2 separate regions of the Homo sapiens genome follow, and region 1 is linked to region 2. The links come from fine-mapping of genetic effects on gene expression. Tissue or cell type: whole blood. Region 2 holds a variant in brackets; the other region holds the start of a gene. All regions are shown on one strand. Distances are from middle to middle.

Region 1 (5,369 bases), 85 kb after region 2:
CCTGATGGTAGCAAATAAAATATACGAATAGGTCAAATTCCTGATATTTTACACCAAAATACAAAACCATCTTTTATAAGGTTGATTTTTACTCTCTTATACTTGGCTAAGCAACAGATTCTGGTTTAGAAAAGCAGACTGCACGGATACGTTGGTGTAAGATATTAATTGGGTAATATTAAATACCTTGAATGCCCACAACAACCCTCCCCTCAAAATCGTGAGTTAAGTACTTTATGACACTAAACCTACTTCTTTTCCGCATAGGACCGTGAAGAAAATTTTCGAACGACCAGTGAAGATACAAATAGCAATGTTTTATGGTGGGCTTTTGCACAAATATTAATCTTTATCTCAGTCGGAATTTTCCAAATGAAGTACCTGAAAGACTTCTTTATAGCTAAGAAGATTGTTTAAAATATTATCAATAAGGACAAATAATCTGCATAATGTTTGAGTTAATAAATCAAAATACCTGCATATATGTGTATTATTTTTATGATTTCAAAGATACCAGAGATTGAGATTAACGTTATATCATTATAACATTGAGAGAATGCTTTTATAATGCAGCTTCTGAATTTGATAGATTAGGCACCTCATCCTATTCTTAAACTTATTTTTGAGACTGAGTCTCGCTCTGCTGCACAGGTGCCGTCAGGCTCACCACAGGCTCGATCTCCAGGGCCCAAGCAATCCTCCCACCTCAGCCTCCCGAGTAGCTGGGACCCCAGGGGCCCACCACCACACCCAGCTAATTTTTGTATTTTTTGTAGAGACGGGGTTTTGCCACGTTGCTGGTCTTGCTATTTTAAACTTGGTAGAGATCAGCACTGTCTAACAGAAATAAAAGTGGGCTACATACATAATTCTAATTTGCTGTTGTTGTTGTTGAGACGAAGTCTCACTCTGTTGCCCAGGCTGGAGTGCAGTGGTGTGATTTCGGCTCACTGCAACCTCCGCCTCGTTCAAGCGATTCTCCTGCCTCAGCCTCCGGAGTAGCTGGGATTACAGGCGTGAGCTACCGCACCCAGCCCATACGTAATTCTAAGTTTTCTAGTCTCCACATTGAAAAGGATTTTTTGAAAGGGTAAAATCAACGCTACTGATATATATTTAACCTAATATATCAAAAATATCATGTTAACATGTAATCAATATAAAATTACTAAGAAGGTTTTCATACGAGGCCCTGGAAACAGCTGTATTTTACTCACATCTTTCGGGGCGCAGGGGTCACTTGGCCCGTAGCTACCGGGAGCGCTCACCCTGCGCTCTCCCGGCACAAGCACTTGCCTGAGCCTCTCGATCCGAGCTTTGCAGCGTCCCAGCGGGTGGAAACTCTCAAAACCACGCAGAGGACAATTTTATAAAAAGTCACTTCCCCATGCTGGAACCTGGAAGCAGCAGAGGTCCTTCCCGAGCTACGCCTTCCGTTTCAGAGGGAAGCAGGCTCAGGCCTCCCGTGCTGAGGTCTCTGCGCCAGCGGCCACCTGGACACTAGTCCCAAAGCGTGCAGCGCGGCCTGGCCCCCACCCCCAACTGCCCCCCCCACCCCCACCGCCTCATCACACCCCACCCCCACCGCCTCACGCCCCCACACCCACCCCAACTCCCACATCCCCACTCCCGCTCCCACCCCAACTCCCACACCCACTTATCCCTCCCTCCCTCCTATCCCGCTCCCCGGGCCCCCAGGGCCCCCACGCCCACTCTCCCCTACTCCTCCCCTGCCTCGCCCAGCGCACTACCCTGGCCGCCCTGGCCTCCGGCCCAGCTCCCGGCCCTCAAGGTGGGCCTGGCCCGCATCCCCCGCCCTCGGCGCTCCCCCTCCCCCTCCCCCACTGCTGTCGCGCCGCGACGCCTCCTCAGCGCAGCCGCCATTCCCCGCGCCCGCCACCCAGGCCCGGCTTCCACAAAACACCTGAGGACCGCCAAGACAGGGGCGGGACGTTGGTGCTCGCGGTGCGTTCCTCCGCCTACTCCAGCCCAAACGACCTGGGAGACGAGTCACACGCGCCCTCCCAGGTGCTGCGGGAGAACCCGCGAGGTTGGCGGGAGGGCGCGAGCTCCAGTGCGCGGGCGCAGGGCTGCCGTCGACTTTGCGCAGGCGCAGAGCTGCCCGCCTTCGGGCCCTGCGCGGGGAGGCTGGTCCCAACCTTGCGTGGGCTTCGCGTGGGCCCGGCCTCGCCGCTGCGGTCGCCCGCCTGGCATGGCCAACTGGGTGTTCTGTAATCGCTGCTTCCAGCCGCCCCACAGGACGTCGTGCTTCAGCCTCACCAACTGCGGGCACGTGTACTGCGACGCCTGCCTCGGCAAAGGTCAGGGCTTCCCGAACGCAGGCTGGAGAGGGGAGGGGAGCGGCAAGGGGGTCAGGGAACTCCGGGGGATGGGGGACTTGGGTGGGAGGGCCATGGGGGCACGTGGGGGGCTGCGGAGGAGAGAGGGCGCGTGGAGAAGGGGGAGGGGGCAGGGGGAGGGGGATGCCAGGGGAGAGGCCGCGAGGAGCAGGGGAACTCTGAGGGGAGGGGGACCTGGGGTGGAGGGGCCGCGGGGGCGCGTGGGGGGCCGAGGGGGAGAAACGGCGCATGGAGCGGGGGGGGCATGGGGGGGTGAGAGGCCGCGGAGGTAGGGGTATTCGGAGGAGGGGCCACCGGGGAGTGGGGGCCGCGGGCGTGATGAGGGGCCCGTGGGGAGAGGGGGACACTGGAGAAGCGGTGGGGAGGGAGCGGGGGAGTGAGGGGCTGCGGGAGGGTGGGGAAAGAGGGGACGCCGGAGGTGGTGGGGGGCTGCAGGGAGGAAGGGGACGCCAGAGGAGGGGGGCAAGGTGGGGGATGTGGGGGGTCAAGGCTTGGGGGGGAAGGGGGATACCGAGGAGATGGGGGGAGGGGAGACGCCAGGGGAGGAGGGCGTGGGGGAGGGTCCGCAGGCAGGAAGGGGCCGTGGAGGGGAGGGGCCGCCGGGGGGAGCGGGATGCAAGATGAGGGGGACACAGGGGTCGGGCCACGAGTCCTGTCAGTCGGGGGCTCTGGCTTGCAGGCTGCGGGTCCGCCTGGAGGACCTGGGGGAGAAGCGGGCAGGCGGCAACCTTAACGCCAGTGGAGGACTCTGGCCCTATTCCATGGGCAGCGCGGGGCCCTGGTGTCAAGTGGACAGTCGCATTGTCAGGGAGGCGTTTTTCTTTCTGTGAAAATTTTGTGTTGAACTGATGTTTATGCAAGAACAAAAGCAAAAACACAGTGAGCTTTTACCAAGCGAACTTCCCCGTGAAAGCAGCCAGCTGGGTGCCGGTGGCTCACAGCCCTCCAGCCCCAGGGGACGCCAGCTGTGCTGACCTCCATCCTCGGAGTTGGCCTTAGACCCATGGAGCCTTAGTGAATGCAGCCCTACAACCAGCCCTACAGCAAAGCCGCTTTCTGTGGCTCCCCATCTTTCTTCCTTTTTCTCCCTTCCTTCTCTTTGCCTCTTTCAAGGCAGAGCTCAGCTTTGTCGCCCAGGCTGGAGTTCGGTGGCGGGATCTCGGTTTACTGCAGCCTCCGCCTCCCAGGCTCAAGTGATTCTCCTACCTCAGCCTCCAGGGTAGCGGGGCTACAGGCATGTGCAGCCACGCACCCCTGATTTTTTTAATTTTTCACAGAGATGGGGTCCCTTTGTTGCCCAGGATGGTCTCCAATTCCTGTCCTCTAACAATCACCGGCCTTGGCCTCCCGAAATGTGGGATTAGCAAAGTTTATCATTGTATTTGTATGTAACTGTAGTTCATCTACTTTCATTGTTGTGTGGTGTTCCATTGTATGGATACACCCCAAGTTACTCATCGTTTCCACTGTCCATGGCCCTTTGGGTTGTTTGCAGATTTGGCTGCAGAAATAATGCTACTGTGAATCTTCTTGCTCCTGTCTTCGGTGATCTTAGGTACACATTTCTGTTGGGTGTGTAACCTGGGAGTGGAGTTGTTGATTTCAGGTGTGTATTTAAAAACAAAAGTGTCTCGGGCAGCGAGGTGAAAAGTAGATTGGAGGGAGATAGAAACTGTGGGAGAGACTGCAGCTGAGCACATGAGAGGTGATGGGGAGAAGTGATAGGTTCAGGAGAAGTTAGGTAGATTCAGCAGACATGAGTCGGAGACAAGGGCTAGAGAACTGGACAGGGTTTCACTGCTAGACAAAACACTGGAGAGGAGCCCAGCGGGAGGGAACCCAGCAGGGTGGGGCACAGCAGGGTGGGGTGCAGGGCCCCTGAGCTCATGTCTGGACACGGCCTGTATCCTGTGAGAGCCATCCAGGGGAAGACAAGAGGCAGTTGCACATGTGGGTCTGGAACTCAAGACAGCCAGGAACACATTTGGGGAGCGATTAATACGGGATAATAATCCTATAATCCTAGATATTGGAGTGTGGAGAGCCCCAAAGGTGAAGGAAACTAGAAGAGACTATCTTGTTGGAAAGAGCATTTGTTGAAGGAGGTAAAGAAGATGTCAGGTAAAAAAGAGATGTTGATGAACTGGACATCCCAGTGAAGTCAAGGAATTGGTGTTTGAAAGTGTCCATTGGACCAGTGAGGAGGGCACTGGTGACCCAAGATAATGTTCCCCGAAGATAACATTGTTAGGAATGATGGAGACGCGTGTGCCTTCGTGGTGCTGGGAAGTGTGAAGACAGGGCTCAGAGCGTCATAGCTTTTGAGGTCAGCATACTCTGCGTTGGCAGGTGACTGGTTAAGGGCCTGGGGCAGGTATAGATTCACAGGTTTGCCTAGCTCTTAAAGCCTGAGGTCAACACAGATTCCAGTAGTCTGAGTGCATTCCTCCAAAAAGCCACAGATGCTGCATGTCGGGACCACACCAAATCCAAAGACACACAAAAAAGTGGTGAAAAGGGGTGGAGGCTCTGGGCAGAGCCTTGACTGTAGCTCTGTAGCTGTCCAGTGGTGTGTCACTCAGAGGGAAGCCCTTGTTTAGCTCTGGTGTATATCCTTCCAAGCATTTCCTATAGATGCAGATTTTTAAAACAAAAGCAATAGTGTGTCTACCATTCAGTAATCTGCTTTTATTACTTACTCAAACATAGACCTCCTTCCGTGTTAAAATAAGTCTGTATCATCATTCTTAAGGTTGCATGATACATCTTTTGGCTATCATACCATAACATAGTTTCTGCCGTTTTGCTATGAGACACCACTTGTTCTCTTACTTGATTTTTTTCCTTGGAATATATTCTTCGGGGTGGAGTGGCTAGGCTGCGGATGTGCACATGAAAACTGACCCAAATGCGACCCAAACAGGCACAAAGGAAGTGCCTGTTTCTATTCCCTGTAGTGACACGTGAGCACCTGTTGTTTTCTCCTCTTTGGTGTCTCTTACTAGTGAC
Region 2 (5,369 bases):
ACCCTCTCCTCGCTGCTCCCCTCCCCCTTACCACCCCGTCCAGCGATGTCCACGCAGATGGGAGAGTTGTGAGGGTCGTCCACACCTGGCCTGCAGTGGCTGCCCAGCTTCCTGCTAGGGAGATGGGGCCGGTGCTGATGGGGAACAGCTGTTGTGGGGGCAGCCAGAGGAAACCACGTTCCCGTGGGGTGAGCTCATGGTTTACACGTTCCCTGCCAGATCCATAACATCCTGGAGGCAGAAGCGCAGAGGCTGAGCCCGCCCCCGCCCCCGCTGAGCCTCCCCTGCTCTGACACCAGGGCGGCTCAGCCATCCTCGCTTAGCCTGCACCTCCTGTCCTGAAGCCCCTTCCTCCCTCCACTTGCTCCCTCTGTCATTTACTCCCCAGCCCCGACCCACCCTGCTCACCCCTGAAGCTTCTCTGGGTCCTGGACTCCGTTCTGCAGGCTGGACGCCTTCTCAACTGTCCGTGGAGCCTGCCTGGTCTCTGGGGGTGTTGAGTGAGGGGTGACCCAGGAAGAACGTGTCAGAGACAGTGGACAGGGAAGCGTTTCTCACCCCTTAACTCACAGCAGCCCCACCGGGCGGACACAACCATCAACCCAGCCGCAGGTGTAGAAACTGAGGCACACAGACGCGATGTGGCTGCCCGTCTGGTAACTAGCAGCCGGGATTGGAGCCTGGGTCCAAGCTGCCTGTTCTTTCTTTCCTAGGCCGTGCGCCGTTTCTCCTGGAATAACTGGAGGTGATTTCATGGAACCTGGAGGCTGGGCTTCAGGCTGGGGGGAGAGGCTCCAGACTGGGTCTTCTCCGTGGCTCTGCCCCCCGCTCTCCTTGCTTGAGTGGTGGGGGCCCTGCATCCTCTCATGCCCACCCCCACCTTTCTCGCCAAATTGTCGGAGGCTTTTGTCACCTGGAGACACTGTTCCTGCCAGCTCCGGTCTTGGAAAACATGGCCTCTCCTCTCCTGCCCTGGCCCCGGCCCCTCCTGCCAGCTGGACGTGGGCATTTCTGCACCCAGTAGAACCCCACAGCCAGGAAAGATGCCTGGAAGGCTAGAGAAGAGGCGTGATGGGGGGACCCCATGTGTGGCGACAGAGCAGCACACCCAGCTATTCTCAGCCACCATGTGGGAGAGAAATGACGCCTCTGTCGAGCTCCCCATGGCCGGAGCTGCTCCATACAGCATCCTAACCTTCACCCCCAACTACTCAGTTGCCATGGCAAAGGGAATATTTTGACTCCCTTTTTTTAAAATTTCCAGGTGATTATTGCTAGAGGAGTGGGAAGTTACTAATTTTTGTATATTTATCTTGTATTAAAATGTTTTTACTGATTTTTAATTTTAATTTTAATATTTTTTGAGATGGAGTTTCACTCTTCTGGCCTAGGCTGGAGTGCAGTGGTGTGATTTCGGCTCGCTGCAACCTCCACCCATGGGTTCAAGCGATTCTCGTGCCTCAGACCCCCGAGTAGCTGGGATTACAGGCATGCACCACCACGCCCGGCTAATTTTGTGTTTTTAGTAGAGACAGGATTTCACTATGTTGGTCAGGCTGGTCTCGAACTCCTGATCTCAGGTGATCTGCCCACCTTGGCCTCCCAAAGTGCTGGGATTACAGGCGTGAGCCACCGCACCTGGCCTGATTTTTAATTTTTAAATGAGGGAGCAGAGGCATAACTAGGTTTACAATCATGTCATCAACAAAATAAATTGTCTTATTTTTCTGATATTTGTGCCATTTATTTGGTTTTTCTATTAAGTTTGCCAGAACCTCCGAGAAAATGCTGGACAATTATGACAGCAGCAGGCCCCACGAGTCGACCCTGGATTTGTGACATTTGTGTTTTCCACGTAGAACGATCTTGGCCACTATTGTGGACAGAGACTTTTGCACTTTTTTCTATTTTACTAGAAATAGTGCTTTTATTCATAAAGATTGCTGAATTTGGTCAGTTTTCTTTTCAGTACCTGTCGGTGAGGTTCTCTGAATTTTCTGTGCTAATTGGCTAATGAAATGACGTCTCTGATGACTGCGCTGCCCTCGTAAGCCTGGCCTTCATCTGCTTGGCCATAACACGATGCTGCCGACGCTGTGTTGGGTCCTATTTGCTGTTCTCTTGTGTAGAATCCGCCGACGCTGCGTTGGTTCCTATTTGCTGTTCTCTTGTGTAGAATCCGCTGATGCTGCATTGAGTCCTATTTGCTGTTCTCTTACTTAGATTTTTTTGCATCTGCGAAAAGTGATATTTGTCTATGGTTTTCTCTTTTTGTTCCACATCAGGTTTTTGAATTAGATTATCCTGGTTTCATGAGATGAATTACAGAGTTTTCCATCCTTTCATGTCTTGGGAAGGTTAAAGTAACCCTGGGATGACTTTCCTTCCATGGAAGGTGAGGTCATC[G/A]TCAGCTGCGGACATCTGCTCCTGGTGCCTCCTTTCCTGGCTCAGCTCTCGCCCTCTCCAGCACCTCGTGCTCATCTCTGCGTGGTGCCGCTCATCCAGAGTCATTCTGGACTTTACACCCACGACAACATGGCTGCTGCAGGTTTCGAAGCAGCTGCCCCGGCCGAGCGGGCTGTCTCATCATTCCTCCAGCCTCTTCCATACTGGGGTCTCTTTCTTCCTAATCATGTGTGGGTTTTTTTATTTCAATGTACAAAAATTCTAAATAGAGGTAGTCATTTATTTGTTTTAGTTTTTTTTTTTTTTTGAAACAGAGTCTCACTTTATCACCCAGGCTGGAGTGCAGTGGGACGATCTCAGTTCACTGCAGCCTCCACCTCCCGGATTCAAGCAATTGTTCTGTCTTAGCCTCCCAAGTAGCTGGGACTACGGGCACGCACCACCATGCCCGGCTAATTTGTGTATTTTTGCAAAGACACGGTTTCACTATATTGGCCAGGATGGTCTCAAACTCCAGGCCTCAAGTGATCTGCACACCTCAGCCTCCCAAAGTGTAAGCATTACAGGCGTGAGCCACCACGCCCAGCCTAGGCAGTCATTTCTTGATGCAGCTTTTGGGCTGGGCAAGGGGATTTTATTTTATTTCTTTCAGAAAACAATCATTTCTCCTTTTTACTTATTTGTTTTCTACTCATTAATTTCTGGCTTTATCTTCATAATTCTCCCTACTTTTTAAAATGCACTTTATTGTTCTCATTCTAGTTTCTTAGGGTGGCACAAAGTCCCTCTCGTTTATTTTTTCCTCTAAAAAATAAGAGCTGTGCTGGGGGCTCTGGGCGCTGCATTAGCTGAGTCCTCGATATTTATGGATTGATATTTATGGCTTCTCGGCTTTTCAGAGAGTGCACGTTCAGATTTAATATCCTGTTTTACCCAAGGGCTACCTGGGAGTGTGTTGGTTTCTAAGTTTCTGGGGGAAGAGGTGGCACTTTCCGTTATTTATTTTACAATTTTTTGGATAACAGGATCATTTTAATTATTCTACTTTTTAGTTCCTTGAGGTTTTCTTTGCAGCCAATACACAACAGACATGGACTTATCGGAAGTCGGAACGTTTGGAAGCTCTGTTTCCCGTGAGGAATCTTCGGAAGCGCTGTTTCCCATGAGGAACGTGAGCATGACCATCCATATTGATCTGTCTGCATTTTTCTGTTGCCACTAGACCTAATTATGGAGAGAGAGACACGGAGGGAGCTCCTGTGACCCTCAAGTCCCCTCATCATGTCCCCGTCCTGTTGGCTTTCCGAGTTTAGCTCCCATGTTTGGACCATGGAGGTTTATGTCTTCTATCTCAGTCATCGTCCCTGCCACATGCCCAACCAGACATGCTGACATCACAGGCCCTACTTAGCCCTGTTTCCTCTCCCCTTGGCCTCACCTTGATGTCAGGGGGGTGTCCTCTGGTCTGACTCAGAGGCAGTGACTGGCTTCCTTCTAGTACCTTCTCTGGATAATGAGTATGGATGACATACCTTCTAGTGTCTGCTGTCGCGCTTACCGGTGACACTTCTGGGCTGGTTTGTGATGCCTGGGATGGAGCCGTCTCCCTAGTGGTCATGGATGATGTTTCACTGTCCCCTGCTTCTGGTGGCACAGATGAGAACTCCAGGCCTCGTGCTCTCTCTGCTGGCACACACATCTTCCCTCCATGCTGGCTGCACACCTGCCCATGGGGTTTCTGCAGGAGAGGAGACAGCCAGAGGCCCAAGTGGGGTGTGTGGCAGGCAGGCAGCAACCCTGGTCACTGCAGTGGCCTCTGCTCTGAGTCTCGGGAGTAACCCTGGTCACCGCAGTGGCCTCTGCTCTGCTTCTCAGCTATGCCTGGTGTGACCCCCAGGGTCTTGGTCGGCATGAGGCCACAGAGCTCACGTGCACTTCCCGCAGCTGCTTCCACGGTATAGATGAGAGGTTCCCATGGAGCTCACATGACCTCTAGAGACTTGCAGACCCCTATGCTGTCAGACAGAGGAGGCTGAGGCTCAGAGAGGCACAGTCACCTTCTTGAAGATGCACAGCCGTGAGTGAAGAAGCTGGGATTTCTCCTGGTCTCTCTGACCCTGGAACACGTGGCCTCTGGGTGTGCCCAGTAAGAGACGTTAAAGAAGGGCCTCCCCCATGAGCCCTGACTGAGGCGGGGCGCTAGGCACCCCATCGATGTGCTTCGTGGTTCACAGGGGAGAGGCAGAGGGCCTGTCGGGGGGCAGCGATGGGGCAGCCAGAGGGGGCGGTCCTGGCCTGTGTGAGCCTCCTTGAGGGGAGGGTGCCAGGAACTACCCCATGATCTTCTATTCTCATGTAAGCCACAAGACCCCAACCCAGATCCCCACAGCAAAGGCGAAGTCACCAACTCAACAAGGCGCGTGGCCAGGCGTGGGGCTCACGCCTGCAATCCCAGCACCATGGGAGGCTGAGCAGGAGGATGGCTCGAAGCCAGGAGTTCGAAACCAGCCTGTGCAACACAGCGAGACCGCTCTACAAAAATAAAAAAAAATCAGCTGGGTGTGGTAGTGCACACCTGTAGTCCCAACTACTTGGGAGGCTGAGGTGTGGGCATCCTGGGGCTGGGGGTCTCCGGGGTGGGGGGTCTGGGGCAGGGGCATCCCAGGGCTGCTGGCCATGACCAGGCTTTGCGCCTCTGCCTGCTGATGGCCCTGGGGCTGTGATGGCGGTTTTGCACAGAGCCCACCCTCCAGCCCTGCTTGCTGAGGGCTACTCGAGGGGCTGCGGCAGTGCCTACCCACATGTGGTGCCCGGGATGCAGCCCCCATCCGCCCAACCTCGAGCTGTGCCTGGAGAGGCGGGGGGAGGTTCAGGTGCCATGGCAGCCTCCAAGGGGCCGAGGACTTAGGGAGGGTGCTGGAAGCTGGCCGGCCTGTGAGGGACCCCTGAGGCGCAGGGGGCCA

Evidence for each region.
Region 1: RNF212 starts here. The variant in region 2 is fine-mapped to the expression of RNF212 in whole blood (TOPMed, PIP above 0.99).

What each region holds. Positions count from the first base shown.
Region 1 is chr4:1,110,308-1,115,676 of GRCh38, reverse strand. It overlaps RNF212 (ring finger protein 212), which reads left to right and starts at 2,113. Exons shown (of 10, transcript NM_001131034.4): 1 at 2,113-2,321. The coding sequence starts at 2,213. LOC124900647 (nascent polypeptide-associated complex subunit alpha, muscle-specific form-like) reads right to left here and starts at 2,038. Exons shown (of 3, transcript XM_047416477.1): 1 at 1,925-2,038. It overlaps LOC105374344 (a long non-coding RNA gene), which reads right to left and starts at 2,038. Exons shown (of 3, transcript NR_134676.1): 1 at 1,925-2,038. It also overlaps the pseudogene TMED11P.
Region 2 is chr4:1,195,392-1,200,760 of GRCh38, reverse strand. It overlaps LOC124900647 (nascent polypeptide-associated complex subunit alpha, muscle-specific form-like), which reads right to left. Exons shown (of 3, transcript XM_047416477.1): 2 at 3,965-5,369; 3 at 1,723-3,630. It overlaps LOC100130872 (a long non-coding RNA gene), which reads left to right. Exons shown (of 4, transcript NR_024569.1): 4 at 714-4,978. LOC124900164 reads left to right here. Exons shown (of 1, transcript XM_047416479.1): 1 at 1-135. The coding sequence ends at 118. It also overlaps a transcript of SPON2 not described here. Among named protein-coding and RNA genes, the nearest start is that of CTBP1-AS, 12 kb to the left of the region's middle. RefSeq lists enhancers at 1-73, 569-1,118, 3,001-4,200. The variant G/A (reference allele first, on the strand shown) is at 2,407.